4 linked regions of the Homo sapiens genome follow. Changing the gene in region 1 together with any one later gene gives a genetic interaction. Each region holds a gene or a part of one and is shown in the gene's direction. Other genes may lie near its edges.

Region 1 (8,119 bases):
CCGCAGGATGTCAGGGCACCCTGTGCTCTTGGGGACGCTCTGCGGTAGCTCCCTGAGGCTCTCAGACACCAGGACACCCTCCCAGCCCAGTCCCAGCAACACATGCCGGCAGCGCCTGCGCCAGTGTTTTCTTCTCCTGTCGGGAGGCTGGTGACCCGCTGTGCTGCCCCGGTGGGGGGCTGATCTCTGACCTCCTGTCTGGCGGGCTGTGCTGCACCAGCCAGGGCCGGGAGGTGCACGTGGACCCGTGTTTATTGGAATCCTGCTGTGATCAGACCCGGGGGCGACGTCGAGACCCACCAGGCCCCGTGGCCTCCTGTGAACATCTGCAGGCTGTTGGGGGCAGCGGTCGACGGAACAAGTGTGGGGCGGCCCGGGCTTCCCGGAGGAAGCGTTGCTTGAGCTGCCAGGGGAGTTACCTGCAGAAAGGGAGGTGGGGTGCACCAGGCAGGGGGGCAGCCAGGGCAAACGCCTGATGCTCAGAGGGTGACAGTGGGCAGCGGGGCCCTTTGGAGGAGCGGAGGGAGGGCCCTGTTGGCTGCAGGGCAGAGTGCCCCACACTCCTCCTGGCCGCCACCCCCAGGGCCCAGCCCAGTCTGGGGACTAAGACGAGAGGCCTCTGGGGTGTTCCAGGTGAGCTGGAGTCAGCCCCTGTTGCTTTTGAATAATTACAGGGGAGTCAGCCCAGTGACCAAGCCTCTGCCTGGTGGGGGAGGGGCACGGGCTTTGTGTCCGGGAGCTGCTGTCCTCAGCCTCAGGAGAGGGGGTGTCACGGGCCGTGGGACAGGTCACAGTTAGGGTGGGGTCCCTGGAGAGGGGTCTGAGGACCGTCCCTGCGGAGTCCATCCAGCCACCATCGGTTGCCATGGCTACTGGCAGCCCCTAATCCTCACGGTGCTGGGTTTGACCTCTGCAGCGTCCCAGGCGGGCATGACCTCATTTGATCCTCCTGGGGTGGGTGGGACTGAGGCCAGGGGACTCCTGCCCAGAACTCAGGGTGGCCGATGTGGGGAGGGGCACTGTGGGGCCGACAGGTCCCCTCTCTGGCCATCAGGCCCCCAGGAGGGCCCAGGTGCTTGGAGGTGGGGGGTGTCCCAGCTTGATGTTGGGGATGTGAGTAGATCCAGCGCCCACCCACCCGCAGGGCTGAGCTCCCACTGGGCGCTGGGCCGTGACTCGCACACCGGACCCTGCACCCCTGGGGCACCCAGTGATTCCAGAACAGTGGGACCCCAGAGGCTTCTCAGGGAGCCCCAGAACATGACAGATGGGGGCCCAGGTGCGAGGCAGTGGGAGCTGGAGGAACACAGCCAGGGGCTGAGGCGAGAACCATGAGGATGGTGGGCAGAGGCTGAGGGGAGGGGCAGCAGATGGAGATGGGGGAGGCGTTAGGGGTCACAAAGGGGGTTCTCAGAGGATCTGCCTTGGGAAGCCACTGCTGTGGGAGGGTGGGAGGGATACAGCCCAGGTACCTCCAGAGAGGATGGAAAGGCTTATGGGGCGGATTCTGGGCAGGGGACCTGGGACCAGCCTGCAGCCTCCCCTGAGGGCCTGGCCATGGCCGCAGGCTGGGGAGGAGGGGAGGGGACCTTGGGGCCAGGTGCCATGGTCCTCTAAGCACTCTTGCTCGATGGTAAACATAACACGCGCTGCTTGCAGAACATGTGGAAACACTGAAACGCTTAAAGGAGAGAACATGGTCCCGGTACCCGGCCTTCAAGGGAGCTGCTGGCGCCTGTTCAACAGGAGCCGACCCCACCTGTGAACAGACGGCAGGCGGCTGCTCCCATGTCCCCTCAGAGAGGGGCCCTCCGAGTTCTGCTGTCACCTGGGGGCGCCTCACTTCATTCAGCCAGTGGCGGGGCTCCCTGGGTCGGCACAGAGTCAGGGGAGGGGGCTGGGGGACCTCCTGGTGGGAAAATGTCCGGTGATCCCCAGCCTCCGCGCTCAGCGGGAGGAGGCGCTCGGTCCCGCTTCTTACAACCAGCGGCGCTCACGGCGGGCCCGGGGATCAGCATCCCGGGAGCTTCTCAGGAATGCAGATTCCCAGGCCCTCACTGCCTGGGGAGTCGGGGGCCCAGCTCGAGGCCCAGGAATCTGCTTTGAGGACCCAGGTGACTCTGCTGCCTGCCTGAGAACCCCACCTTAGGTGAGGGACTAAGGTGTACCCATGGATTCATTTCAGGGGAAATAAAAAGAACAACTTAGCAGGTAGTCTATGCTTAAATATGTGTAGGATCCACAAATAAGGCATGGATAAAACCCGAGTGGAGTGTCCTGGAAATCCCACGACCACGGACCCCCCTCGCTGGGGCTGCCTGCCGCCCCCACCAGCCTCCACACACCCACTTATCTCCACAACCCCAGCCCACCCCTCAGAGACGTCTGCAGAGCCCCTGACCCTCTCCCCTTGAACAAGGACCCTCCACCCTCTTCAGACTCTCGACGAGGGACCCCCTGGACTCCTGCTGGCGGCAGGACCCCCACCCCAAGCTGGGGTCTACCACAGAGCGGACAGCAAGAAAATAGGGTGGGGGCGCAGGCGATCATGGGGTCACTGCCAGTGGGACCAGGGCTGTGGGCGAGTGCGCCAGGGTTCCCGGAGGCCAGACGTGGGACCCGGGAGTCGAGCAGGTGAAGCGGCCCTGCCCCGCCCCCACCAGGCACTGCCCCGCCCCCGCCCCGCCCCGCCCCCTCCCAGCCGGCGCCCGGGAGCCCGGAGCCAGTGCCGCGCGGACATCGGGGCTCCCCCGTTCAGAGGGCGCCGCCGCCCAGGTGAGTGCCGCCCGCCCCTGTCCCCCTCCCGCGCGGGCACCCCCTGCCCTCGGCTGTTATCCCCACTGGGGGTTTCACCCTGTGTGCGCAGCCCCGGCCCGGGGTCCCGCCGTGCGCCCCCAGCCCGCTGCACGCACTGTCCCCCACGCGCCCTCCGCACACCCGCGGGGCTCTCCTGCCGCCGCCGGGGGTCCCTCCCCTCCCGTTCCATCCACTCCCAGCAGCTCCATCCCTCCCATCTCCTGCCCCCACCCCACAACTCACCATCTGCAGGCACCCCGTGTGCCAGGGTCAGCCCAGAAGCCACAGGGGACCCAGATGGCCCCACTCTGCCCACCGCGCCGCTCCCGGCCTCTCCTCCCCACGACGGGGGCCACAGCGGGGCTGGCTCCTGGAGCTGGAGGAGGGTGGGTAAGGCTGGGGAGGGCTCGGAGCCTGGGGCTGGGGGCCGGAAGTGGCACTCAGGCCACAGGGAACCACTGGGCCACGGAAGGAGGGTCCCAGGGTGCCCGTGGCACCCAGCGAGGGGAGGATCCGCAATTTGGGTGCCGGGGGAGGCAACTGGTGCCTGCGCGCAGCTGGGTCGGTGAGCTCCTGGAAGGCAGCAGGCAGAGGCCAGCACCCAGGGGCCCTGTGACCTGGCACTCACAGATGGGTTCCCTGAAACCCAAGACTGGGGAGGCTGGGGTGCCACCCCGCCCGCTGCGAACAGAGCCCCCTCCTGTCCAAGGCACCGCGTGTACCTGGAATCCTCCTGGCGTCTTCACCCTCTCCAGAATAGAGAACACGCCACTGGGGTGTGTGCCCTTGGCCCTCCTCCCCCACCCCAGACCCACCCACGTGCCCGACCCGCTGTCCCCAGCCTGCCAGCCTGCCTGGGGCCCCCTCAAGGGCAAGAGAGCGGAGTGCATGGTGACAGAAGTTGGGGATGGTTCCAGTGAGGCTGAGCCCTTTCTGAAGGCAGTGATTCTGGACTATGTAGGTGGGGACTGCCAGAGCCTCCTGGGCAGAAACTGGTCAACAGCACCAAGGACAGGCGCCTGGCGTTGATTTCCAGAGCAAGACCCAGCGAGGCTGTCAGGAGGTGCCTGGTGTGGAGGGTGCCCCGAGAAGCGTTCGCGGAGCACGCGGGACCCCTGCTGCTGCTGCTCCAGGCTGGCCCACACCTGCCTCAGTTTCCCTCTCCTGGGGAGGGTATGTGCCCCTGGCCACAGGCTGCCGCAGGGACAGGTGGCGTGTATGTGGGGGACAGGCAGGGGTGCCATTGGCTGCACTCACAGAGCTGGACCCCAAGGGGGCAGTGGCCTGCCACCAGGCCACCCTTACGACAGAGGAAACAGGTCAGAACGCTTGTCCTGGGAGCACAGGCCTGGCTCCGGGGCCTTTGGAGGGGCTGGGGCCTGTAGTCTTAGCTAGGGTGTCCCCCGACGTTTGCCCCTGCCCAGCACACAATGGAGGAGCCCGGGTGGGTCTGCAGCCTCTCCAGGGTGCGGCGTGGGCCCCGGCCGTGTGAGCCGCTGCCTCCCCGAGCAGCAGGTTCCGCAGCCCCTCCAAGCTGCAGCCGCATCGCTGCCCCCCATGAAGGAGCCGACTCCCCGACCTCGTGCTGGGTTAGCCTGGAAGGAGTTGGCAGGGTGCAGGCTAGACCTCCACCCAGTCATGGAGGACTTGGTGCTGAGGCCCCGCCTCTGGTCCCAGGCCCCTGTGAAGACTGCCCCCTTCTCCGAGGAGCCCAGCGGCCTCCTGGATGCTGGGGAAATGCTGGGCTGCTTAGGGCAGCTTGTGGGAGCAATCGTTGAGCGCCCAGTGTATGCCAGCCCCGCTGTGGTCCCCGTCGTGGGGAGGTGAGGCCGGGAGCGGTGCTGTGGGCAGACTGGGGCCATCTGGGTCCCCTGTGGCTTCTGGGCTGACCCTGGCACACCGGGCACCTGCAGATGGTGAGTTGTGGGGTGGGGGCAGGAGATGGGAGGGATGGATGCTGCTGGGAGTGGATGCACGCAGCACCCTGCACACAGAAGCTCACTCAGTTTCATCAGCTCAGCAACCCTACAGTTTGCAGGAGTTGCCTATCCCAGAAGCTGGGCTCAGAGAAGCCCGTGACTTACCCCAGACCACGCAGCCCGTGTGGGGAGTGGTCAGGGGCCGGGGTCTCTCCCAGTGCCATGTCAGGCTGAGCAGATCCCTTCGTGGCCGAGGGCTCGGGATCAGAAAGCTCCTACTGCTGGCTCCCCCTCCAGTGAATCCCCCACCCACAAGGGACAGGGCCACCGGGACAATTCCCCGTGAGTGCGTAATTTTATGATTCAGAGGATACTGCTTCCAAATAACGGCTCTTGCAGAATTATGTTCCAAGAGTCAGGTACAGCAATAATGGTCTATTTGTGTCCTTTGCTGCTCTGAAGTCTAACTCCGGAGGTGGAGCACTGGGGGCCGCAGAGCCGGGGACCTGGCAGCCTGTGGAGCCCCTCGCTGGGCTCTGGGCATGGGAGTGGCCTTGGAGGAACCCTGAGGCTCCTCTGAAGCTAAGAAGCTACAAAGACAGGGAGGCTGAGGCAGGAGGATCACTTGAGCACAGGTCGAGGCTGCAGTGAGCTGTGATCACAGCACCACTTCGATCCAGCTCGGGCAACAGAGCAAGACCCCATCTCGAAAACAAAAAATCAAACAGGCATTTGGGAACCACACGTGCTGGGGACCCAGGGCCTGTGTTGGAGATGGACCGGAGCCCGACAGCCGCCCTCTCCCTGTCCCACCATCGGTGGCTCCTCTGTCCCCTCCACCTGGCCTCCTTGCTACGGAGGAATGGGCCGAAAGTGCCTCCCCAGGGAGGGTGCAGCTCAGAGGCCTCTGCACCTGGGCCGCCATCCCACCCACCTGGACTCCCACGCAGCCCGCGGGCTGTCTCCAGACCACTGTCCTTCCGGAATGCATGCTCCACAGGCAGCCAGAGGGAGCCGCAAACATGGCGTGTTGGATTTCCATGCTGGTCCCTGGGGAGCGGAGAGCCACAGGCCTCTTCCCCTCCCTCTCCCTCTCCCTCCCTCCCTCTCTCCCCCTACCCTGTCTCTCTCTCTCCCCCCCCACTCTCTCTCCCTCCCTCTCTCCCCCCACCCTGTCTTTCTCTCTCCCTCCCCACCTCCCCCTCTCTCTCCCTCCCCCTCCTCCCCCTCCCTCTCCCCCCACCTTTTCTCTCTCCCTCCCCACCTCCCCCTCCCTCTCCCTCCCCCCTCACCTCCCCTCCCTTTCCCTCCCTCTCTCCCTCTCTCCTCCCCTCCCCCTCCCTCTCCCTCCCTCTCTCCCTCTCTCCTCCCCGCCTCCCCATCCCTCTCCCTCTCCCTCCTCTCTCTCTCCCCCTACCCTGTTTTCTCTCTCCCTCCCCGCCTCCCCCTCCCTCTCCCCCATACCCTATCTTTCTCTCTCCCTCCCTGCCACCCCCTCCCTCTCCCTCTCCCTCTCCCTCTCCCTCTCCCTCCCTCTCTCCCCACACCCTGTCTTTCTTTCTCCCTCCCCACCTCCCCTCTTCTCCCACCCCGGGGTCTGCGTGGAGGCCACTGCTCCGTCCCTGCTGAGGATTCTGCTGCACTCTGGCTCCTGCCTGTGGGAATCCGTCCTGTCTCTCTGGCTGGTGTCTCTCTGGCTGGCGTCCCTGCCCAGATGCCGCAGCTTGATGGGGATGCTCTTTCATTCCTTTATGCTGCTTGGGACAGGTGCGCTCCCAGAAGGGATCCTGTCGCCAGTTCTGGGGGAGCCCAGCCATGCTCTCCCCCTGCCCACCCCACAGAGCCCTCTCTGGACCTTGTGCCAGCACCCTGCTCCAGTGAATCTTTCAACCCTCTTCCCATTCACCAATTCTCTCTTCAGTGCTGTCCACACTGGAGTTGGTTCTGACCACTTTTGTAGTGTTTTTTTCCACTTAAATGATTGTATTTTTTACATCCAGGATTTGTAATTTTTAAAAATAGATGCCTGTTCATTTTACTCCTTAGACAGAAGCCAAATGTATTTCCTAACATTTTATCCATGCTGTCTCTGTGGATCCTGCACATATTTAAACATAGCCTAAGCGTACCTGTTTGCTCGTTATTTTTATCTCCCTGAGATGGATCCATGGGTCCACTGGCCCTGTTGATTTTCTGAGTCGTATTTCTTAGTGTGTTTGGGCCATGCGAGCTTGGGGATGTTGATTTCTAGGTTTGTTGGGGACAGAGGGCTTTCTCTTTGTGCTGTCAGCCTTGTGTTCTGGGCTCCCCCGTCCCCAGCTCTCCTTTCCTTGTCTACCAGATTTCAGTGGCCTTGGCCCAGCCCCACAGCCCCCAGCCAGGACTGTGGCCTTTCCTGGCAGCTGCTGGGGTCGTCCTGTGCTCTGAGGTGCCTCCAGGGTCAGGGCCGGTCAGCTGAGCAGCCCCAGGGCTCCAGACGGCACATGCTGAGGTCACCACAGCCGGCTCCACCCCTGCTCAGGCCGAGGTCCCCCAGGGAGGGGCTTGTCCCTGGTCTGGATCCTAGGGGACACTTTGATTCTCTGCTGGCCACCCCCAGAGTCACACAGCTCCAGGGTCAACCCAAACATCCGGACTTCCTCCGCCCCACTCGTCAGGGGAGGCATTGATCTTCTTTTTGAGACAGGGTCTTGCTCAGTCACCCAGGCTGGCGTGCAGTGGTGTAATCACAGCTCACTGCAGCCTCAACCTCCTGGGCTCAAATGATCCTCCTGACTCAGCCTCCTCAGTGGCTGGGACTACAGGCGCCCGCCACCACACTTGGCTAATTTTTGTATTTTTTGTAGAGACGGGGGTCTCACCATGTTGCCCAGGCTGGTCTTGAACTCCTGTCCTCAGGTGATCCACCCGCCTCGGCCTCCCACAGTGCTGGGATGACAGGCTTGAGCCACTGCACCCAGCCGGAGTATCATTTTTATGAATGATTTCAAACATGCAGAAAAATACAAAAACAATATACGAGGTACACACGTGCCCATGGCCTTGGACCCACAGACGTCACCATTCCCAGCCCACCCTTCTCCATGGACACCCCTCCCTCCCCTCCCCCAAGTCTCCCCTGTTCTCTCTCTGGGCCACAGTGGGGGGTTCCAGGGCCTGGGAGGGGGCTCAAAGCTCCGATGGGACTGGGCAGTGTCAGGTGGCTGCAGCCCCCATACGCTATGCCTCTGACCCGCCCACACCCCCCACCGCGGCTTCTCCTCCGGGCTGCAGGGTGTGCAGCCCCCGCCCGCAGTCCCCCCTCCTTCGCCCTGTGTGACTCCTGGGGCTCCGTGTGACCACTCTGTGTGGTTTGTGTGTTTGCTTCTCTGCAGCCGCCCCGTGGGGAGGGTGGTGTCTCTCTG
Region 2 (8,434 bases), on another chromosome or scaffold:
GTTAGGTAGCATGGTCCCTGGCAGTTCTCTGTGTGCCCTGGACAACCCCTCTCCAAACTGCTATAGAATATTCTGGAGTCCTGCCTGGGTGCGGTGGCTCACGCCTGTAATCCCAACACTTTAGGAGGCTGAGGCAGGTGGATCACCTGAGTTCAGGAGTTTGAGACCAGCCTGACCAATATGGCGAAAGCCCATCTCTAGGAAAAATAAAAAAAATTAGCCAGGCATGGTGGTGTGCGCCCGTAATCCCAGCTACTTGGGAGGCTAAGGCAGGAGAATTGCTTGAACCTGGGAGGCGGAGGTTGCAGTGAGCCGAGATTGTGCCATTGCACTCCAGCCTGGGCCACAGAGCAAGACTCTGTCTTAAAAAAAAAAAAAAAAAGAATATTCTGGAGTCTTGAAGTGGAAGCCCAGTCACAGACCATGATTTTCATGGGACCGAAGAGCCTTTTGGGAGAAAACTGAACCCCATCTGGCATTTGAAATGTGTAAATCTGTCTGGGAGATCGAAAGAGGCCAGGCTGGGTGGAGAGACAGGGGGACCCCTGAGGGGAGCCATCATGGGTGAGGCAGGGTGGCATGGTACACACTGGGCAGGGAGTCGCGGTGGGTGAGTTGTGGATACAGGACTTTCAAGGGAGCTGCTGCTGGAGGGAGAGGCTGGGAACAAAGAGCCTCGGCCTCCCAAAGTGCTGGGATTACAGGCATGAGCCACGACGTCAAGCCATTTCTGTGGTTTACAGTCATCCAGTTTGTGTATCATCTGTTACAGCACCCCTGGGAAACATACAGATGCCAGCTTCTCCCTGTCTGTATCTATATATTTTTTTTTTTTGAGATAGCAGTTTCACTCTTTTTGCCCAGGCTGGAGTACAATGGCACGATCTTGGCTCACTGCAACCTCTGCTTCCTGGGTTCAAGCAATTCTCCTGCCTCAGCCTCCCAAGTGGCTGGGATTACAAGCGCCCACCACCACACCTGGCTGATTTTTTGTATTTTTAGTAGAGACGGAGTTTCACCATATTGGCCAGGCTGGTCTCGAACTCTTGACCTCAGGTGATCCACCCGCCTCAGCCTCCCAAAGTGCTGGGATTACAGGCATGAGCCACCGTGCCCGGCCTTGCCCATCAGGTTAGGTGTTTATCAGCTGTCTAGAGTGACTGAACAGGTACGACTTGGGGGGCAAAGGACACATTCTCCCCCCCATCCCCAAGATCCACCTGAGAGGCAGTCACCAGAGGCGTTGCCAGCACTCTTAACTGCAATAGCAGGACAAGACTGGGCATCTGATAAACAGTGCAATCGGTGTCCCTGGCGTGAGGATGATCTCGGAGGTGCTTCTTTTTTAGAGCCCACCTGAGGTCAGGATTTTTTTTTTTTTTTTTGAGACAACATCTTGCTCAGTTACCCAGGCTGGAGTGCAGTGGCTCATCACTGCAGCCTGAACCACCTAGGCTCAAGTGATCTTCCCACCTCAGCCTCCCAAGTAGCTGGGGCTACAGGTGTGTGCCACCATGCTTGGCTGATTTTTAAATTTTTTGTAGAGACAGGGGTCTTGCTATGTTGCCCAGGCTGGTCTCAAACTCCTGGGCTCAAGTGATCCTCCTGCCTTGGCCTCCCAAAGTGCTGGGATTACAGGTGTGAGCCACTATGCCCAGCCCCAGGGATCTCCTTCTCTCTGTACCCATCACCCTGTTGGGCCCCTCACCCTCCTTATTTTCCTTCTCATTGGTGGTGGTATGTGGTTTTCTTCCTGTTGACCAGGACAAAGGTCCCAGCGATCACCCTGCCCTCCCCTGTCTCCTCTCCTGTCCCACAAGGGTTTGAACTTCCCAGTTTCACCATGTTTAACATACCGCCTCATCTTTAAAAAAAATTTATTTTTATTTGTATTTTTTTGAGACAGGGTCTCGCTCTGTCGCCCAGGCTGGAGTGCAGTGGCGAGTCACTACAGCCTCGACCTCTCCGGCTCAAGCCATCCTCCCGTCTCTGTCTCCCAAAGTGCTGGGATTACAGCGGTGAGCCACTGTGCCTGGCTTACTGCCTCATCTTGTTCCCTGAGGTTCTAGACCTCTAGGGTGTTGTCCGGAAAGAACAGGGCCATGTGGAAGTCAGCAAAGAGAGAGGCCGATTGAACAGCAGGCTCTTCTCAGGCATCGCCAAGTGACTGATTAGGATTGGCCACCAGGGGGTGCCATGGAGCCACAGTCTATGAAGGGACAGAAGAGGCCTTTTGGGGGACCCTGGAGGTTGAAGGTGGGGATGCCCAGCTGAGGTCTTGGACATGACCACCCCACCAACCAAGCCCAAGGAGGTCTCTGGTCGGTCCTGAGAGGTCTGTTGAGGGTCCCTTCTAGCAGGCAGGTGGGCCTCAGAGTGCAGAGGGGCCCTGGGAGAAGGGGACCCAGAGACAGGAGGAATGCATGTGGTGGGTGGGCGGGGGCATCGGGACGGGGTCACTCCACGGTCAGGGGCTGTGTCCCAAACCGTATGGGTAGGAACAGGAGCTTCCTCTGCGGGGGGGTCGAAAGAGTGCACCTGTGAGGACACTGAAAACCAGCAGGAGAATCATGAAGACAGGAAACAGGAGTCTCATTGTGAGATGAGTGGGTCCCACCAGTGCAGCCGTGGCAGTGCATGTCAGGAGGCTGACCCGGCTTTGCCCCTCCCCCTTCACTTGTTGGATGGCTCTGAGCAGGTTACTGAACCTGTCTGTGCCTCGGTTTCCTTCTCTATAACGTGGTTAATACTCATTTGGCCGGGCTTCCGTGTGGATTAAAGGAGACGCGTATCCAGGGCCCGGCACATAGCAAGTGCTGTAAGCAGTGGCACTCACAGGCTGCCAGGACAGGAAGGACCCTCAGAGGTCCGTCCCAAGCTGTGTGGGTAGGAGCAGAAGCTTCCTCTGCAGGGGGTCAAAAGAGTGCACCTGTGAAATCCAACCTCCAGGACCCCCAGGAGCCCGAGATGGACACAGGATCTGCACTGCTGGGTGGGGCGGAGAGGCAGGTGCTGGCGAGAGAAGAGCTAAGGGGTGCAGGATGGGGTGTGAGCTGGAGGGCAGGGGGTAGTCAGAGCCAACAGGGAGAGGGGCCTGCATCCCGAGGGAATGCCAGCACCAAGTGCCAAGGCCTGGGCAGCCCTGGGAATGGGTGGAGCCAAGGTCAATAGCAGAGAGCTTTGTAGTTGAGATGTTTGGTAGGGCAACCTCCTGAATATTTAAATATTTAATTAAATTAAATATTTAAATAAACTTGAAGTAGAACGTACTTAAAGTGCACAAATTGGTAGCTTGAATTCCCACCCCCTCCCCCCACATAAGAGGTGGGCTTGTCCAAGACTCCGAGGGACAGAGGGAGAATCGCTGGTGCCCAGCCAGTCGGTGACAGAGCAGGGATTAGAGATGGACCCCTGAGGCTTAGCCCCACGCTCTCTTCCCCAAACCCTGGGGCCTCAGTCAGCCTCTGGTAATCCCTTCTGTGCCCAGGGCACCAGAGCTGACGTTTCCCTTCAGCAAGGCAGGGGCCGAGGCTGCCAGAGCCCTGCTGGCGTCATCCTGCCTGGGATAGCTCGAGAGGTGGGGTGGGGGGATTACAAACCTCTAACAGCACCACAGGCTGCCCGGGGAACATCTGCTACTACAGCCTTGCAGCCCGGAGTCCCGGATTTTACTGGTTCCCGTGCCTGCGGACAGGCCCCCAGGGCTAGCGGCTTTGTGGAGGGAACACTGGGTATCCTCTCCACAGTCCAGGTAGGTGGGACCCCCACTCCTGGCTCTCAGCCTTTAGGAACAGGAGCTTCTCTACTTGGAGCTTCTAGACATGGAGGGAAACATGGAAGCCATGGAGTTTATTAAGTGTCTTGGAAGGTGGAGGGAGGGATGGCCTCCTCTAAGAACTGCAAATCTGCAGGGTGTCTTGGGAGACAAGAGTGCCCAGAGGGGAATGTCTGATGAGCTGGATGTGTGGGGCAGGGGGTGTCCTATGCACTCTCCTTGCCTGCTCCTCCCCATTCCCCAGGCCCTCTGCAGCCCCCGGCTCCCTCTAACCTCCCCACCCCCCACCACAAATCCTGCATGTGTGTGGCCCAGTCTGAGGCCATCTGGATAGAAGTAGAGGCTCCCTAAGGGCCCACTTTGATTAAGGGGCTCTCTAGGACCAAGGGCTGAGGCTACCTAAAAAGCTCTCTGCCACAGGATCTTGCACCCAAAGGACCAGAAGCCTCCCTCTGGGGAGGTAAGATAAACCACATGAATGGTGGTGTGGGGGAACCGGGCGCCCACCCACTGCACAGTTGCATTAGACGTGGTCAGTGGAGGGTCACGAGTCCTGCCTCCCCTCCCACCGTGGGCAGCAGGGTTGGGGTGCCCCAGGCTCCACTGAGCCCTGCTCATCCCTGCCACCATCTCTGGGGCTCAGAAGCACCCAGACGGCACCCTGAGACCAATGTCTGCAGGTCTGCAAGGTGGCAAACCTCCAGGGATCCTTCTGGCTGAGAGGGAAAGGTGGGGAGACAGTGCCAATGTTTGCAATGCCTGGTAACAGCCTCGGGGACCAGGTACCTGGGGAATGTGCCCATTGATTTAGGGGCTGTCTCCACCCCAGTTCCTGCTACAAAAGAGGCCAGATACATACTCTGGGGCCTGCCTCCCTGGAGATGAGGATGAGACCCCTGTCCCTTGCTGTTCTCCAACAGGTGCTGGGAGGCCCTCCTTGGCTTAGGAGGACACTTCCAAAGCTGGGGCGCCCCAAGGAGGCACCAGTGGCCAGAATGTCCACGCAGAGCACCCACCCCCTGAAACCTGAGGCCCCACGTCTGCCACCTGGGATCCCCGAGTCCCCGAGCTGTCAGCGGCGCCACACACTCCCTGCCAGTGAGTTTCGCTGCCTCACCCCGGAGGACGCTGTCAGCGCCTTTGAGATCGAGCGTGAAGGTGAGTGGCCCCGCACAGGGTCAGAGGGATGCTCCACTCTGGTCCAGTTATCCTGTGGGGAGGAGACCCTTAGTCTCCTGTCCTTGGAGGCTGGGTCCCAGAGTATCAGACCATGTGTGCGCTCAAGAAAGTGGGGGAAACAGCAGCCCTAACCCCCATTTTCCTGTGGGGAACGGGGCATCTGAGTGGACACTCGGGGTGCAGCAGACAGTGGACGCGAGGCACAGCGACTACCAGTCACCCACCTGAGCCTCCTGCCACAGCCTTCATCTCCGTCTTGGGCGTCTGCCCCCTGTACCTGGATGAGATCCGGCACTTCCTGACCCTATGTCCAGAGCTGTCCCTGGGCTGGTTCGAGGAGGGCTGCCTTGTGGCCTTCATCATCGGCTCGCTCTGGGACAAGGAGAGACTCATGCAGGTGAGGACAGGGCTGCGACGCCCAGCTCCAGGGAGGCCTCTGAAGACAGAGGTCAGCCAGATGGCGGGGAGGGGAGCCCAGGGGCTGGGATTTCTTCCTCCAGAACTGGAGAGATGAGTACAGGCCACAGGCCCCTCCCAGAGCAAGACCTTCTGGGTCTTCAAGTTTTCTCCATGGGGTTGGGGGTATGGCTCCCAATTTGGGGCCCTCCTTTGCTGGGGTGGGTGCCCTGACCACAGGCACCCAGGGGACACCTGCTCCCTGCCTGGGTTGGTGGTTGGGGGGGAGCACGTGTCAGCAGAAGTGACCTGGGATCTCATCCCTTGCTCGCTCCCAGGAGTCACTGACGCTGCACAGGTCTGGGGGCCACATAGCCCACCTGCATGTGCTGGCCGTGCACCGCGCCTTCCGGCAGCAGGGCAGGGGCCCCATCCTGCTGTGGCGCTACCTGCACCACCTGGGCAGCCAGCCGGCCGTGCGCCGGGCCGCGCTCATGTGCGAGGACGCGCTGGTACCCTTCTATGAGAGGTTCAGCTTCCACGCCGTGGGCCCCTGCGCCATCACCGTGGGCTCCCTCACCTTCATGGAGCTCCACTGCTCCCTGCGGGGCCACCCCTTCCTGCGCAGGAACAGCGGCTGCTGAACTGGGCTGCCCACCTGGCTGCCAACATGATCCCCGTCTCTGCCCTGGGCTCCTCTTAGCTCAGCTGAGCATGGAGACAGCAGTTTCCAGAGAGTGGAGAGAGCAGGGCTAAATAAAGAGGAGATAAGGTGGCTTCTCACGGCCTGAGCTGGAGTGGTGTGTCTTGTCTGTCCCCACGAGGCCTCTGGACCTCCTGTGTTCTGAACTCTGTACCTGAGACCGGGCTGGGTTGGTAAGCGGGGACAATGGGAGGTGCTGTGGGGTTCCTGGCTCCTTTCCTCCTGGCAGGTGGGCAAAGGCACCAAGGCGGCATCCTCACAGTAGCCCATTGCTCGGTGGGGGGGGGGGGTGTCCTTATTCTCCCCAGCCTCATGGATGCCGCTTCCCACCCTTAGCCCCTAGGGTGGGGGAGAGTGGGGAGCAGCAGGATGGGGCAGAGGCGGGAGGCCTGTGCTGTAGAGGCAGCTTGGGGCAGGGAAGCTGGTGCAGGGCCCTCTGCCCATGGTAATCAAGTGGTCATACCCGGTGCCTCACTGGCCATCCTCAGTGTGGTGGGTGAGGCACTGGCACAGGGAGTGGACTCGTCCCCGGGTGGGGTGACAGGTCCCCTCAGTGCCATCCCCATCAGGGCAGGCCACCCTGGGCCCAGGCAGCCCCTTCCCTGCTCTGGAGCCAAGGCAGAACAGGTAGGGGTGGGAACCCCAGGGCCCTAAGGATTCAACCCAGCCCTCCCAAGTGGACCCCTGGGGTCTCCCACGTGACCCCAATCTGCTTTCTGGCCCAACTAATTCCCCAAGATGCTCCACAAGTTTTCTGCTGTCCACCGGGCCAAACTGCTGTCTCTGAGCAGCTGATGGCTGACCCCTCACCTCACCCCCAAATCCCAGTTTCATGCTACCTGAGGTCTCCGTTAAAGACAATGTACTGCCATAAAGAATATTATTTAATCCATGAGACATCGTCCGTACAAAGTTAGCGTTACTTTTAAAAATGAAGACCGTGATATAAACTGGTAAAAAACGGGCCTGATGCGCCTCGAGCACTCCCTGGGAGCAGGCCCTGGGGTGGCTCCGCCCAGTGTCGTTCTACCTGAGGTCTACTTGTGTCTCCCCCCTTGTTCTCTGCCCCCAGACCATGGCCAAAGCCTTTCCCACAATGTCCCATCTGAGAGCCTTATGGATGGGCTCACAGGGCAGAGGTAGGAGGAGAAAGAGGAAGGGGCATGGTGGGCACCCAGCCCTGGGGGCAACTGAGGGCACAGCCACGTCCCCAGCAAGGGCACGCTCCAGTAGTAGTGGGGGAGAAGGCACCAGCAGAGGCAGCGCTGAGGACCTGGGAAGAAAAGGACCCTGCCCCAGGAGATGGTCTCAGCAAGGAGCGGGATATTAGGAACTGAGACCCAAGACTCAGAGAGGCAGGTGCCTTGGGTGTGCCTGAGCTTGGGTCAGGATCTCACAGGCCTCACGCCCCAGAAAAACCCCGCCTTAACCAACCATCTCACGCGGAGTCAGCCTCGCCTGGCAGGGGGGCACCCAGGTCCAGAGCCCGGGCCCTGTCTTGGGTCTCTGGCTCTCTGGCACACAGAGAGCGCTCTGCAGAGGGCAGCCCTCGCAGGCAGACCCTGTTCCAGCAGGGCTGAGGGGCAGCCGTGTGGCCCAGCGGTCAGTGCAGCACCTGGTCCAGCTCATACTTCTCGCAGAAGCGGCTGGTGAAGGGGAAGCAGGTGAGGTGCTCGATCCAGGGCCAGTTAATGGGGTAGATGTACAGCCACAGCACGAGGGCGGCGAAGAGGCCGGCAAAGGCCAGCAGTGACACCAGGATGAGTGCCCGCTTGCGGTACTTGTCGCTGGTGCCGAAGGTGATGTAGGGCAGGAAGGCGAAGGCCAGCAGCAGGCCACTGAGGAAGCCGAAGATGTGGGCGATGTTGTCGATCCAGGGCAGGAGGCCACAGATGAACAGGAAGAGCACGATGGCCGAGAGGTTGAGGAAGGCCTTCCAGGGCCTCTCCAGCAGCGGCCAGCTCTGGAAGAGCTCCACGAAGAGGCAGGCGAGGAGGCCGAACTGTGAGCCGGCCGGGCCCACCTGGGGCGGGGCAGGGGAGACGTGGCTTCAGGCATCAGGTGGGTGGCCTGGGCCGGGCCTGCACCCTGGGTCATCCCATCGATCAGCTCCTCCCTGGCAGGCATGGGGACCCCTGAGGCTGAGGGGCAGGGGGTCGGCTGGAGCTGCTGGACCAAAGCTGGGCCTGCTCCGCCCATTCTTTCAGCAAACACTGAGCGCCTACTGTGTACGTGCCTGGTGTGGGTCCGTAGCAATAAGCAAGACAGACAAGCCTGTTCCAGGCCGCACACGGTGGGGAGAGGACGGACACTGAACAAACTAGATCAGTCAGGTGGAACTGATCAGACTGCCGACGGCGCACGGAGGCCATTTCCTACCG
Region 3 (6,529 bases), on another chromosome or scaffold:
GTGATTGACACCTGGGAACAGTGGATGGGGCCTTGGTTGGTTGAGGTCGGCGTGACCAGGGAGGATCTGTGCTGAGCAAGACAGGGTAGGATCTGGGTGAGGCTGCTTCTAAACATTGAAATGGGGACTAGGGGAGTGGGGTGGAGCCTGTACAGAATAATGGGGCTTGGGCAAGACCTGGGCAGGATTCAGTCTGGGCCTGGTCCGTAAGGTGGGGCTGGTCAGAAGTGGGATAGGTTGGGGCCCAGGCTGCTGCTCCCCCTTCAGCATAATTGTTGCACCTGGGACGATGGGAGGAAGCTGCCCCAGGTCCATGGGCTACTGACCAGGCCAGATGGAAACCCAGCCTCTGTCCTAGGTGCTGAAGCACTTCCTGGTGGAGACACTAACTCAAGAGGACATAAAGATGGTCTACAGCTTCATATTGAGGCCTGGCACGTCCCCCCTCCTCACTTTCAGAGCGATTAACTAGTCTTGCATCTGCACCCAGGGTCCCAGCCTGGCCACCAGCTTCCCTCTGCCTGACCCCAGGCCACCTGTCTTCTCTCCCACGTGCACAGCTTCCTGAGTCACCCCTCTGTCCAGCCAGCTCCTGCACAAATGGAACTCCCCAGGGCCTCCAGGACTGGGGCTTGCCAGGCTTGTCAAATAGCAAGGCCAGGGCACAGCTGGAGACGATCTTGCTGGCAGGGCCTGGCCTTGTCCCCAGCTCCACCTGGCCCCTTCTCCAGCAAGCAGTGCCCTCTGGACAGCTTGACTCTACTCCCAGCGCTGGCTCCAGGCTCCTCATGAGGCCATGCAAGGGTGCTGTGATTTTGTCCCTTGCCTTCCTGCCTAGTCTCACATGTCCCTGTCCCTCTCGCCCTGGCCAGGGCCTCTGTGCAGACAGTGTCAGAGTCATTAAGCGGGATCCCAGCATCTCAGAGTCCAGTCAAGTTCCCTCCTGCAGCCTGACCCCAGGCAGCTCGAGCATGCCCTGAGCTCTCTGAAAGTTGTCACCCTGGAATACGATCCTGCAGGGTAGACTAAAAAGGCCCCTGTGGTCACTTATCCTGACACATTTTCAAGTGATACAACTGAGTCTCGAGGGGCGTGTGTTCCCCAGCTGATCATGTCAGCCTCATGCCCCAGGCCTCGTCTTTCATGGACCAGGTCTTGTTCAAGCAGCGAGTGTTGGGTCCTCTGCTTCCTGAGCTGTCCCCTGGAGAAGGTCCCGAGGATGCTGTCAGGAGATGGAAGAGTCATGTGGGGTGGGAACCTGGGGTGTGGTTCCAGAAATGTTTTTGGCAACAGGAGAGACAGGATTGGGCCAACAAGGACTCAGATGAGTTTTATTGACTCATTCCTCTGGTTGATACGGAGCCATGTCATGTGCCACGACCTGGGGTGGGCACAGGGAGGCTGCAGTTCCCTACGTGAACCTGCCTTGGGCCTCATCTGCTCCTAGCCCAGCAGAGAGAGTTGACCCCTCCTGAACTGGCCACTCCCCAGTGCTCCTGTGCAGGGATAGGAAGTGCCCCAGGGTGAGAACGTGCCCAGCCACATCATCTTTATCTCCTGGGATTTTCATTAGGGCAAAGATCTCAGCAGCCAGCTCCTGGTAGCTGATGAGGATCAGAGCGTTTGTTCCCCCATGAAAGGGGAAATACTTAGGTAATCATTCCAGGTGTGTTCAGTAGTTCCAGGACTCAGGGACTCAGGCCAGTCACCCTGTGACCGCAGGTTGCTTTCCCACCCTGGGCAATGCAGTGCAGCATGGGAAAGGAATAAGGGGGCAACAAGGTGCACAGACCTCAGAGATGGCTTCCTTGTTTATGGGGCTCTCACAGATACCCATCCAACTCCTCTAGTCAGCACTAGATCATGGGATCCTAAAATAAACCTTGGAAAAATATTTTAAAGCCTTTTATCTCAAAATTATTATAGATATATTCAAATTTGTTGACATATATATACAGGCAGGTCCCCCCGCCACCCTTCACACAGCCTCCCACCATCAGCAGCTTGCAATTACATAGAACAGTCTTCAAAACAGGAAATGGACAGTGGCACGATTCACTGAGCTTATTTAGAACTTACCAGTGAAATGTGTGCCTGCGAATGGGTGTGTGTGTGTGTGTGTGTGTGTGTGTGTGCCTGCCTAATTCCATGCAACTCTGTCCCACATGTAAATTTTTGTGTTTTTAAATGTAAGCTTAATTATTACTCAGTTGTGGTGAGGCCCACAGGCCAGGAGAAGACTGTGATTGAAGAAATAGTCTGTTACTGACAGCGTGCAGTGGCAGGGCTGTTCTTGCCATCATGACCTCATTGGAAGCATCCGGGTCAATCTGAAGGCAGAGGTTCTAGTTCTTCCTGGGGGAGGAGCCAGTGAAAGCAGGGTAGGCAGGCTTGGGACTGATTGCTTTGCATGATTACCCAGGGCTGCGAGTCACAGGGATTGTCTCTGGCTGTCTGGTGCCTGACTCTGGGGGAATCTGTTCAGGGGAGCTGTGGCCTGGAGTGTGCAACAAGGTGGCTGGCAAGACTTCACAGGAAAGGCATTCACCAGGGGGGACCTTGACCATCTGTAGTAACTGGCCAGCCCTGGTAGGGCATCCTGTCCAGGATGCAAGCCCAGAAAAGCATCAGAAGCACAGAAAATAACAAGGATGATTACATGATTGGCCTGGTGATGCTTGGATGTCATTATTGAGAAAGCACTAGCATTAGTTTCTTTATCCACTTGTTGATTGATGGGTGTTTGGGTTGGTTCCACGTTTTTGCACTTGCAAACTGTGTTGCTATAAACATGCGTGTGCAAGTGTCTTTTTTGTATAATGACTTCTTTTCTTCTGGGTGGATTGCTGGATCAAATGGTAGTTCTACTTTTAGTTCTTTAAGAAATCTCCACACTGTTTTCCATAGTGGCTGTACTAGTTTACATTCCCACCAGTATTTAGAAGTGTTCCTTGTTCATTGCATCCATGCCAACATCTATTTTCTTATTTTTATTTTTTGATTACGACCATTCTTGCAGGAGTAAGGTGGTATCACATTGTGGTTTTGATTTGCATTTGACTGATCATTAGTGATGTTGAGAATGTTTTCATATGTTTGTTGGCTATTTGTTTATCTTCTTTTGAGAACTGTCTATTCATGTCCTTAGCCCACTTTTTGATGGGTTTGTTTGTTTGTTTCTTGCTAATTTGTTTGAGTTGATTGTACATTCTGGATATTAGTCCTTTGTCAGATGTATAGATTGTGAGGCTTTTCTCCCACTCTGTGGGTTGTCTGTTTACTCTGCTGACTGTTCCTTTTGCAGTGCAACAGCTCTTTAGTTTAATTAAGTCCCAGCTATTTATCTTTGTTTTTATTGTATTTGCTTTTGGGTTCTCGGTCATGAAATCCTTGCCTAAGCCAATGTCTAGAAGGGTTTTTCCAATGCTATCTTCTGGAATTTGTATAGTTTCAGGTCTTAGATTTAAGTCCTTGATCCATCTTGAGTTGATTTTTGTGTAAGGTGAAAGATGAGGATCCAGTTTCATTTTCCTACATGTGGCTTGCCAATTATCCCAGCACCATTTGTGGAATAGGATGCCCTTTCCCCACTTTATGTTTTTGTCTGCTTTGTTGAAGGTCAGTTGGCTGTAACTATTTGGGTTTATTTCTGGGTTCTCTATTCTGTTCCTTGGTCTATGTGCCTACTTTTATACCAGTACCATGCTGTTTTGGTGACTATGGCCTTATAGTATAACTTGAAATAAGGTAATGTGATGCCTCCAGATTTGTTCTTTTTGATTAGTCTTGCTTTGGCTATGGGGGCTCTTTTTTGATTCCATACGAGTTTTAGGACTGTTTTTCCTAGTTCTGTGAAGAATGATGGTGGTATTTTGATGGGAATTGCATTGAATTTGTACAACATAATTTCAATACACCTGAGAACTACACATATATTTGAAGAATAATACTTGGTGTGTTGCTTGTGTCAAGGTAGCAGGTTGATCAATTATGTTTTTGGAGCATAACAATTGGTAAATTAGTAAAGTATATGTAAAGATTAGTGGCATTTTTGTGTAACCAAGGAAAAAGAGTGGTTGTGATGGTTAGAGATGCAGCGTAGAAGGTCACGGTAGAATCCTGGACAAGATTAGTAGGAGAAGTTTCTGGAGAGTGAGTGGTCCTTTCCCTGGAGGTAAGATGTTGATATGAGACAAGTACCTTCTGGGGAAAGTGATAATCTCCATTAATTTTCAGAGTGGCACAGAGACCATCAACCTTTTCCAGGTGTCTCTTCGGCACGGGAGTGTAGGGGTGTGGGTGGTTCTGGAGATCAGGGATTTTATAAGGATCATGGGTGTTATACATGTGTTGCGTCTCCCAGAAATTTCTGTGTTGAAATCCTAAGCCCAGGACCTCAGAATATTACTGTATTTGAAGACAGAGTCTTTAAAGAGATAAATAATGTGAAACCAGGTCATTGAGGTAGACCCTAATCCAATATGACAGGTGTCCTTGGAGGAAAAGGGATTAGAACCCAGGCACAAACAGAGGGTGTCTCTGTGATTTGGTCAATAAACCAAGAAGAGAAGCTTGAGCAGAAACCATCCCCCCGAACACCTTCATCTAAGTCTTCTAGCCTCTGGAATTGTGAAAAAACAACTTTCTGTTGTTTAAGCCACCCAGTCCAGGGTACTTTGTTATTGCAGCCAAAGCAAACTAACGTGATAGGCTAAGCAGTCAGCAAGCTGCAGAAACTCATTACAATTGCTAAAACCAAAGAAAGAAAAGCAATCCATGTCCTGTGTCCAGTTCATGCCTTAGTGTAGCTGAACCCAGGCTTGGCTGCTTGCTGCATGAAAACTAAACTCCAGAGACAAGAGTTGGTGGGAGGAAAAGCAGGTGTATTCAACAGCCAGCAACCTGAGGAGACGGCAGACTAGTGTCACCAAGACCATCTCAATACAGTACAAATTTTAGGCTCTTTTTAGTTAAGGGAAAAAGGAAGAGGAGGGAGGTGTGATTGAGAGGTGACCAATGACCACAGACTCCAAGGAGCCAGCAAGGGTCCGAGGAGGCTGAAAACTTCTTTGTCCTTGGTCAGGTCTCAATGCCCCTGTAAATCTTTAACAAAACATAGTTAACTGTTTACATGCTTTTCCTTTGATCTCAGAGTTAGTTTTAAAAAGTACATGACTGCTGTTTTTGTATTATTAACTCAATGCTTTAAAATTATCCTCGCCCATGTGCAGGAATCAGTAAAGGCCCTTTAAACAAAAAATGGAGTGAGTTATGTGCGTTCATTTGTTGCTTCACTTTTAGATTAGGAAAGGCAGTCATGGGCATTGCTGGGGAGTTGAGATTTTAGAGCCTGGGATGAAGTTGTGTCCTGAGTTGGGGGAGAAATCTTCTCCAATGGCAAGTTCTTGAGCTGAGTTGAGGTCCTGCAAGGCAATGTCATCTCCTGGGTGTTCTCCTGGGCCAGAGTGATGCCATCTGGGATGTGCAAGTAACATTTTCTTTTTAGTGGATACCTACTTGAGTTGATGTGGGTCTTGTGTTTATAGCTCTATGGTTTTATAATGAGCCTGAGGCTGAGCTCCAGCATTAATGCTCTCTAGGGCAGGCCCACTAATTTGGTCAATTGCAATGGCCCTGAGCCTAAGTTGCGTGGTTAATGAAGGTCAAGCCATGGGGGCCTTTTGGTCATAAGGCTTTTATCAGCCAAACTCAATGGCACGTGGACCTCAGCACAGCCCCAGCAGGACAAGTGCTGAGGTCCACATTAGGAGGGCTGAGCCTCCAGATTCCATTTAACAGTTTTTTGTTTATATTTTTGGATTTGATGAAGGTTTGGGCTCAAATGGGTCCTGTATCGGATGAGCAGATGCCTGCCCCATGGTACAATCCATGGTTAATGGATCCCAGGAAATAATTCACCCCCCAGTCTGGTGGCCAACCCTCCTGGGATGAGGAGGGTTGGCAAACAAAGATCCAAAATTTACAAAGATGGGGGAGTCAACATAAAAAGTTTTCCTATACATGAAGGTGACACATATGCCCCTTTACAAATAAGAAAGGGAAACTGAAAACTTTTAAAACTTGGTGTGAGATGAGTCAGTCAAGCAGCCTGGAGTAAGAAGAGGTTAGGGCCTGGAACAACAGTATGATCCATGTCAGGGACATGATCCATGTTCTTCAGGGACATGTGACAATATGATCCAGTCACAACCACTCTTTTTCCTTGGTTACACACAAATGCCACTAATCTTTACATATACTTTACTAATTTACCAATTGTTACACAGACTAGGATTTGAAAAAGAGTTGTTTGAGGAGAATATATTTCTATCAATTAAATTAAATTAAATTTGGGGGACATATCAGGGAAATGAAAGTTCTATTGACTGTCTTTTCCAAGACAGTTGGGTACTTTGAGAAGTGATATATGTCCTCTGGTTACTATAAGTAAAACTTGTAAGTTAAGGAGAAGTGTCCTGGTGTTAGTGTATGTGGAGACAGGTGATTTTGTTTTATATTTTGAGTATCT
Region 4 (7,636 bases), on another chromosome or scaffold:
GCTCCATCCTCAGTTTCTTAATCTGTGAAATAGGGCTGATGATTCTCACTGTGCAAAACTTCCATGAAAGGGGTAGGTTATGCTTAGAGCATTTTTGGCACCCAGGGAAGATGTTAGTATCTGTACCACCCTCTTGGTTTGATCAGAAAGGGCAATGCATGTACACTGGTGAGAAGATGGACAGCAGAAAAGCATGAAGAAGATGAAACCACCCCCCAGCTCCCGGCTCCAAGTTTTGAAGTGAGCACTGGTCACCCAGCTATGTGTCTGTCCTGACTGCTTTTCTGGCCCATTAATTTTTTTCTTGTGACTAGAATTTTATATCTTTTTTTTTCATTGTTGTTTGTTTTTTTACTTAAACTTCATCAGAAGCCTCTTCCCTGTGAATTAAAACCCCTTGTCAATTTCACACTCCTTGCCGCCTGACATCCCTTTCCTGTACATAACCCAGGGGGCAGAGCCTCCTGCTGCACAGCCCCTCCAGACCACCCCGCCATGTCCGCCATGTCCACCATGTCCACCATGCATCCGGGGGCATGGGGCCAGGCCTTTAGATCCTCCGCCAACCATGAGCCCAGCCGGTACTCAGAGCCTGGCTGCTGATTCACTAGGCATGGAGTTTCAGGAACGGTGGGGCTACCTGGATGACACCTGGTTGTGAGGATGTTCGAGTGGGTGCCAGCATCCCTGAACCTCTGTTTTTTTGTTTTGAGACGAAATCTCACTCTGTCACCCAGGCTGGAGTGCAATGCACGATCTCAGCTTAATGCAACCTCCGCCTCCCAGGTTCAAGCGATTCTCCTGCCTCAGCCTCCTGAGTAGCTGGGATTATAGGTGCGTGCCACCACACCTGGCTAATTTTTGTATTTTTAGTAGAGACAGGGTTTCGCCATGTTGGTCAGGCTGGTCTCGAACTCCCAACCTCAGGTGATCCACACACCTCGGCCTCCCAAAGTGCTGGGATTACAAGGCGTGAGCCACCGTGCCCGGCCCCCTGGACCTCTGACCATCAGTTTCATGTGACCACTGGGAGGCTGGCCCAGGGAGCTTCAGGGACTCTCCAATTAGCAAACGGCAAGGAGAACTAACAGGTGTGGCCACACCATAATCAGGAGACACAGTCTCCGTGACTCGAAGAAGCACCATGTTATTCCTTTGGAAGAGGCCCTTGAGTGTGGGCTGAGGCTCATAAAGGGACAGCAAGTCATCTGAGAGCACACAGCACGCTGTTGACCAAGCAGGACCTGGCCTGTGCATGAACGGGGGCTAGACCTGCAACGCTGGCCCTCCTCCTGGGGGGCCACATTCTCACTCAAATTGTTCCTGAGATGTCAGCTTGGTAGGTGGGTTCCTTGGGTCTGCAGGACATAAATCAAAGTAGTAAAAGTGGGGGCTGCTGGGAGGATGTGCTCCTTGAATGCTTCTTGTTAACCTCAACACAGAGATACACTCACACTTGCCCAGCTTTGACGCAGGGCCAGGGCTCTTCTGTGCCATCGGCAGATGGGAGTTCCATGCCCTCTTCTTTGCCCAGACCACACCCTGCAGGTTGTCACCGTCTTGCAGGCTGATTTCCAGCTTAGGTTCCTTTGAACGTGGAAGAAGAACATCAAAGCACTTATGAAACAATCTGAGCACAGAACTCAAGTTGTTTACGAGTTTCCGTCTATCAGCAGCATCTCACCCGCACCTGATTCCATGGAGGCTTTAAGTGGCTCACGTTGATCACATCTTTCCATAGCATTCAACTAGTTTTCATAGAAACAGCAGCTCTTTCTTCCCAGTGAGTGTAGCCTGTTTGCGTTAATTGATCTTGCGAGCTGCCTGGCATCCACAGGTGTGGAAACAAAGACAGCCAGCTCTTGGTCTGCCTAGCAGGTGGGAGCAGATGGGGGGTGACCGGCCCTGCCTCCTGGCTGAGGGTGGCTGGGGTCATAGGGATAATCTGTCCGCAGGGGGAAGTGAGAGGGCCTCCACTTACCGCTCACCTCCATCCATCCCACCTTCTCCCAGGACGAAACGACTCCTCAGGCATCCGCTTGTACTACACAGCCAAGCTGCGGCGCTTCAACGCGGGGATCATGGAGCTGGGACTGGTGTACACGCCAGTGATGGCCATTCCACCACGGGAGACCGCCTTCATCCTCACTGGCTACTGCACGGACAAGTGCACCCAGCTGGTGAGTGGGGCTGGGCCCGGCACTGCACCCTCCCTCCTCCCGCGTCCCTCAGTGGAGGCCTGGCAGGTCGTGGCCCACGAAGGGTGGCAGGCACAGCTTTGGTTTCCCCTGACCCTGAATCCCCCTGCGGTCCTCCCTCTTTTCTGTATGCAAGGGAACCCTGCTGCTGAGAGGCCATTTGTGTGTGTATGCACCTCCCTCTCCAGCAATAACCATGGCTCCCACTAGTCCACACCCACGTGCCAGGCTTCCACGAGCTGCATTTTAAAATATGCCTTCATTATGTAAGCAACACACACATGCACTTGCCACTCACAAGCGCAGGCACTGCAGCTAAAGAGAACGCTCCCCTCATCCGCTGCCGCCTCCCCCTGAGATAGCCACTTCTTGGCTCTTTGTGTCCTTCCAGACCTTTTTCCTGTATATTTCAGGAAGCTCTTGCAGGTGTTAGAAACCTTTTGTGTTTTTAAAAAGTTGTATTGAATAGTTAACAAATTTTTCAACAAATGGGAGGCATTTTTCTGGTGATTTGCCTTTTTATTGCTGCATAGTATTCCACAGGATGGGGTTTTCACCACGCACCTGAGCAGGGCAGGACTAGGTGAGGCAGTGAAGTGCCGGGTACAGGATCTCAGGGAGCACCCGTCCTCAGGGCTATGCACGCTGGGTGGAGGCACAGGTTGGCGCTTAGACTGGCGCCAACAGCAGGTCCTGTCCTTGGCTTCTGGTGAGTTCAGAGAGTGACTACTAAAATCTCCTCCTTTGCTTGCCCTATCTTGGTCCAAGCCTGTGCTGAACTGTCTCCCTATCAATCAGTGTCTAGGCTGTTCTCAACTTTTCACCAATAGAAAGAAGCTTCTGGGAAATCCTTGTCCATGTAGGAAACCATTTTCTCATGTAGATTTCTAGGCATGAAATTGCTGCTCAGAGATGTGAGTGTTCCCTTGAGTAAATCTTGCAAAATGCCCCTCAGAAAGCCCATCTTCTGCTCCCTCCCACACATAGGACGAGAGGGTGCCCGGTTTTACTGACCCACTGGATTATTAATATTGTAAATATTTTCTGTCATTTGGGAGGAAGACATGTCAGTGTTGTTTAACTTGAATTTTCTATTTGTGGACTTGAGGATCTTTTCCTCTGCCTCTTGGCCATTTGTTCCTGTTTTCTGTTCATTCCTATGCTCGGTTTTTCCAGTAGGTGGTTTGTTTTTCTTACTGTTGGTTTCTAGGAGTTCTTCTTATATGATGGATGTTATTTCATAGTTTGTGTATATGTTACAAACATTTCCTCCTGTGCGGTAGCTTTACTTCTCACAGTGACCTGCAAAGTAAGTGTTGACGTACCCATTTCACAGATGGGGAGACTGAGGCTTGCTGGGATCACACTGCCAGCAGTCACGCAGAGTGAAGATTCAAATACCAGTCTGTCTGACTTTGAAAGCTGTGGCCGTGACAGCAGATTTCGTTGTAATGAGGTTTAGAGTGGATTTTCCTTCCTAGTAAATGGGTCGATTGGGATTTGTTCTTCATGTGGGTGAGCCCCCAGAGCATCCCAGTCTTCCAAGCAAAGGTTCCTCAAGGCTGAAGGGAGACGGAGCTCTCAGCCGGCATGGCACCCATTGTCTCCGGCAGGAAATCAGCTCCTTTTGTCCCAGACGGGGGTGGACACTCTCTCCCACTTCCCTAAAGCGCCCACTGGTGAAGCGTGGGCCCATGTAAAAGGCACCTTGGCCAGGGCTCATGGGGAAGAGCGGCTTCCGGCCAGGCAGCACTCACTGCCCCTTGCAGGGCCTTGGGGCCTTCGACCCCGCTGACCGCTGACTGTGAGAACGCCTCTCTCCAGCCTCAGGAATACAGACCCGCCTCCCCTTGCCAGAGTCCTCCACTACCTTAAGTAACAGAATGAGAATGTTCAGTCTTGTCTCTCCTTTGGCAGATAAAAGAGGGGCACAAATTCTGCAGCCAAAATCTGGCCTAGTCTAGCTATCCCAGTGAAATAGGCCAAGACAAGAGTGCTGCTTTGGACCAGAGTGCCCAGAAGAGCATAGTCCTCCCTCCACCTGGCCGACACCTGGCATCTCTGGGCCAGGGTCGGCCTCTGGGGGCCAAAGGGGCATTGGGACCCTTTGGGCTCCCAGGCCTGGCACACAGTGGCCTCTCAAGCCATTGCAAGGGACACAAAGCTATAGGCGACGGCAAGGTCAGGGCGGCCGCTGCTTGGGAGCGAGAGGGAAGGAGCAAAAGTGAGTCCTAAAAAGCTCGGCCATCTGGGACCTTCAGGGATGGGGCTGTCGGGACCTTGAGCTCTGGGACCTGCTGACTGCATGAACAAACTGGGCAGAGCCTGGCAGCGGGTGGGCAAAAGGACAACTGACTCACAAAGAAAATGCTCGATTTCAGGAAAGACGTGTTCTTTTCTTTCCTTCTTTCCTTCTTTTCTTTCCTTTCTTTTCTTTTTCTTTCTTTTTCTTTTTCTTTCTTTTCTTTCCTTTCTTTCTTTCCTTCCTTCCTTCCTTCTCTTTTCTTTCTTCCTTCCTTTCTTTTTTTTTTTTTTTGATGGAGTTTCGCTCCTGTTGCCCAGGCTGCAGTGCAATGGCACAATCTTGGCTCACTGCAACCTCTGCCTCCCGGGTTCAAGTGATTCTCCTGTCTCAGCCTCCTGAGTAGCTGGGATTACAGGCACGTGCCACCATGCCCGGCCAATTTTTGTATTTTTAGTAGAGGCGGGGTTTTACCATGTTGGCCAGACTATTCTCAAACTCCTTACCTCAAATGATCCATGTGCCTCAGCCTCCCAAAGTGCTGGGATTACAAGCATGAGCCACCATGCCCAGCCATGGAAATGCATTTTCTATCTAAAAAAAGTTAGCATTAGGTTAGAGAAAACTTTCGTTCTCTGGAAGATTCTCTCATGCCCCAGTGATGGCATAAGACCTCTTGAGATGAGGGCTGCCATCTTTTCTGTGAGGCCGGCCTGCAGCCTCAGAGTGTCCAGCTGCAGCACCCCATGGTCACATCCATCTTGGTCCTGGATGACCACCTTCCAGTTGTAGCTACAGCTCCCAGCTGTAGCACGGGGTGATGCTGAGCACAGGGAGAATGCAGCCTTGGCTGCTTTGAAGCTGAAAGGAAGCCACAACGCAGGGCAGCTGAAGGTCCTGCTCGGCCCACCACGTAGGGGACCTGCCAAGTACCACCTTCTGCCACTTGCTTTTCCCTGGACAGCAAGCTCTTCAGCACAGAGGCCACGCGCTGCTCAGCTTGGTGGCTTTGCCACACCCTGTCCACGGGAGGCTCGCCTTAAAGGCCTGTTGACTGAGTGAAGATGAACCTGTCAGGCTTCAGGGGCTCAGGAGAGGATGAAGGACTCGGAAAGAAAGTCGCTCCTGAGTGGGACTAGGGGCTGCTTCTTTGGGAGCTGGGGGCTGTTGCGGCCCCCTCGCTCTTCCCCGTGAGGTTTCTGATGGTGGCTCTAACCTGGCCGGGGAGAAAGACCTAGAAAATGCAAGTGTTCCAGGGAAGCAAACTGCCCAGGGTGGCTGCTCCCTACCGGGTCCTGGCCATGGACGGGAGGGTCCCCTCGGGGGTCAGGCCCTGACACTGCAGCCCCCCGACCCCACAGGCACTGCCTCCCTCCGGGATCCACATCTTCGCCTCTCAGCTCCACACACACCTGACTGGGAGAAAGGTGGTCACAGTGCTGGTCCGGGACGGCCGGGAGTGGGAGATCGTGAACCAGGACAATCACTACAGCCCTCACTTCCAGGTAGGAACCTGCACCCCACCCCTGCCCCGCCCCCACACCCTGCCACCACACGACCTCCTGGGTCTACTGTTTCCTGACACCATAGGGATGGCTCCAGGCTGGCTTCTTTTTCCTGGGCCAGCCCCACCCGCCCCCCACCCATGTGGCCTGTGCTCCCCACTTGGGTGTCTGGTGTCTGATCGTAGGGAGGCCTCTGGCACATGGCAGATGGTGGTGGGATTCGGGAGACCCAGGCGGCCCTCTGGGAACATCAATCTTGGTCTTGGATAACCACCTTCTGGTTTGAATCTAATGCCCTCCCTGGCCAGAAGCCACACTTAGCGGGCTCTGGCTTCCACTGTAGAGGCTGGGGCAAAATGGACACCCCCAGAGGTCAGGGAGGCCTGAGGGAGGACACAGTGGCCGGGGGTCTGGTCTGCAGCTCTCTGAGGTCTCCTCTCCCCCACCCCTCGGCTCTGCCTGCCCCAGGAGATCCGCATGTTGAAGAAGGTCGTGTCGGTCCATCCGGTGAGTGCCCAGCGGGAAGGCTGTCCCACTCACTGCCACCAGCTGGGGTGGCTGAGAGGGCTGGGGGTGCCACCAGAAGGAGAGGGACACAGAAAGTGATAGGGGGAGGGAGAGCCATCCAGGGCAGGGGGAGGGTGCCTGTGGGTGGCTCTGGGCTGGGCTACCTCATGGGGAGACTCACTCAGGAGTTCATGGAGAGACGTTGGAAAGAGTGGAGCAGACAGGACACTCCCAGGGGACGCGTGTCCTCAGTCTGATGGGCCGACCACAAACCCGAGAGTGTTTGGGGGAGATGAGGGCACTAAGGCAGGCAGTGGAGCCCTGATCCCACAGAGGGCCAAGCCCAGGCCTCGGTGGGGACTTGCCCAAGTCCTTTGAGATGTGTCATGGCCCACCAGCTGCACCCCCACTGGCCTGGGCCCTGGCCCTGTTGTGACCCACTGGGTCACAGGAGCTGATGGTTTATAACTTGCTCGGGAACACTCAGCCTGTGACCTTCGCACATGAATCTGCTGGGCTCCTTGTAGTGGACGACAGGGACTGTACCCCAGAGGTGCCGTGGCATGCACAGTGGCGTGGTCCTATGGGGGCGAGGCCTCCAGCACCTGCCAACGCCAGGTGGCAGGTGCTGATGGTCACATTGGCTTTTCCTCAGGGAGATGTGCTCATCACCTCCTGCACGTACAACACAGAAGACCGGGAGCTGGCCACAGTGGTAAGTCACCCCCGCTTCCCCCTGCACCTGCCCAGGGCGAGTGTTCAGCCTGAGCCATCTGAGGAAGGATGACAGGTCTTGACTCCTCACTTAGGGCATGGGCTCGTCCCCTCAATAAGCCAGTCGTTCTCAGCTCCCTGAACCACAGTGGCAGCATCACCAGGGAGCTTGGGATGAATGCAACCTCCTGGGTGCCACCCCAGGCCCACTGAGTCAGAGACACAGGCGGTGGCATCGGGCAATCCATGTTTTAACAAGCTCCCAGCGGATGTTGACCCCTGCTCAAGGTTGAGAAGCACTCACACCAAGAAGCTTCTCAGCACCCGGGGCTGGTGTGGGGAGAAGCTGTAGGACAAGAGGTTGACCTTTGCCCCGTGGAGCTCAAGGTGCACCAGGGAGACAGGCCTGGAGCACCTGCTGCTAACAACAAGCAAAATTACAAAACAAAACTTTAAAAACCAGGTTGAGG

What was found.
Region 2: changes in SSTR5 (region 1) and AANAT together harm fitness more than expected from each alone (negative genetic interaction), as found in Homo sapiens cells (one large-scale study listed by BioGRID).
Region 3: changes in SSTR5 (region 1) and CYP11B2 together harm fitness more than expected from each alone (negative genetic interaction), as found in Homo sapiens cells (one large-scale study listed by BioGRID).
Region 4: changes in SSTR5 (region 1) and DBH together harm fitness more than expected from each alone (negative genetic interaction), as found in Homo sapiens cells (one large-scale study listed by BioGRID).

The regions. Positions count from the first base shown.
Region 1 is NC_000016.10:1,070,048-1,078,166, forward strand, and holds the start of SSTR5 (somatostatin receptor type 5), read left to right. Parts: upstream 1-2,699; 5' UTR 2,700-2,775; intron 2,776-7,576; exon of another isoform or gene 7,577-7,665; intron 7,666-8,119.
Region 2 is NC_000017.11:76,463,977-76,472,410, forward strand, and holds AANAT (serotonin N-acetyltransferase), read left to right. Parts: upstream 1-3,626; 5' UTR 3,627-3,751; intron 3,752-4,695; coding exon of another isoform or gene 4,696-4,770; coding exon 4,771-4,933; intron 4,934-5,140; exon of another isoform or gene 5,141-5,196; coding exon 5,197-5,351; intron 5,352-5,688; coding exon 5,689-5,994; 3' UTR 5,995-6,141; downstream 6,142-8,434. Other genes in the region: RHBDF2 (inactive rhomboid protein 2), read right to left, coding at 7,657-8,076. UniProt on the Homo sapiens protein: Controls the night/day rhythm of melatonin production in the pineal gland. Catalyzes the N-acetylation of serotonin into N-acetylserotonin, the penultimate step in the synthesis of melatonin.
Region 3 is NC_000008.11:142,905,923-142,912,451, reverse strand, and holds the end of CYP11B2 (cytochrome P450 11B2, mitochondrial precursor), read left to right. Parts: intron 1-358; coding exon 359-472; 3' UTR 473-1,893; downstream 1,894-6,529. UniProt on the Homo sapiens protein: A cytochrome P450 monooxygenase that catalyzes the biosynthesis of aldosterone, the main mineralocorticoid in the human body responsible for salt and water homeostasis, thus involved in blood pressure regulation, arterial hypertension, and the development of heart failure.
Region 4 is NC_000009.12:133,645,833-133,653,468, forward strand, and holds part of DBH (dopamine beta-hydroxylase precursor), read left to right. Parts: intron 1-2,013; coding exon 2,014-2,180; intron 2,181-5,801; coding exon 5,802-5,945; intron 5,946-6,413; coding exon 6,414-6,452; intron 6,453-7,107; coding exon 7,108-7,167; intron 7,168-7,636. UniProt on the Homo sapiens protein: Catalyzes the hydroxylation of dopamine to noradrenaline (also known as norepinephrine), and is thus vital for regulation of these neurotransmitters.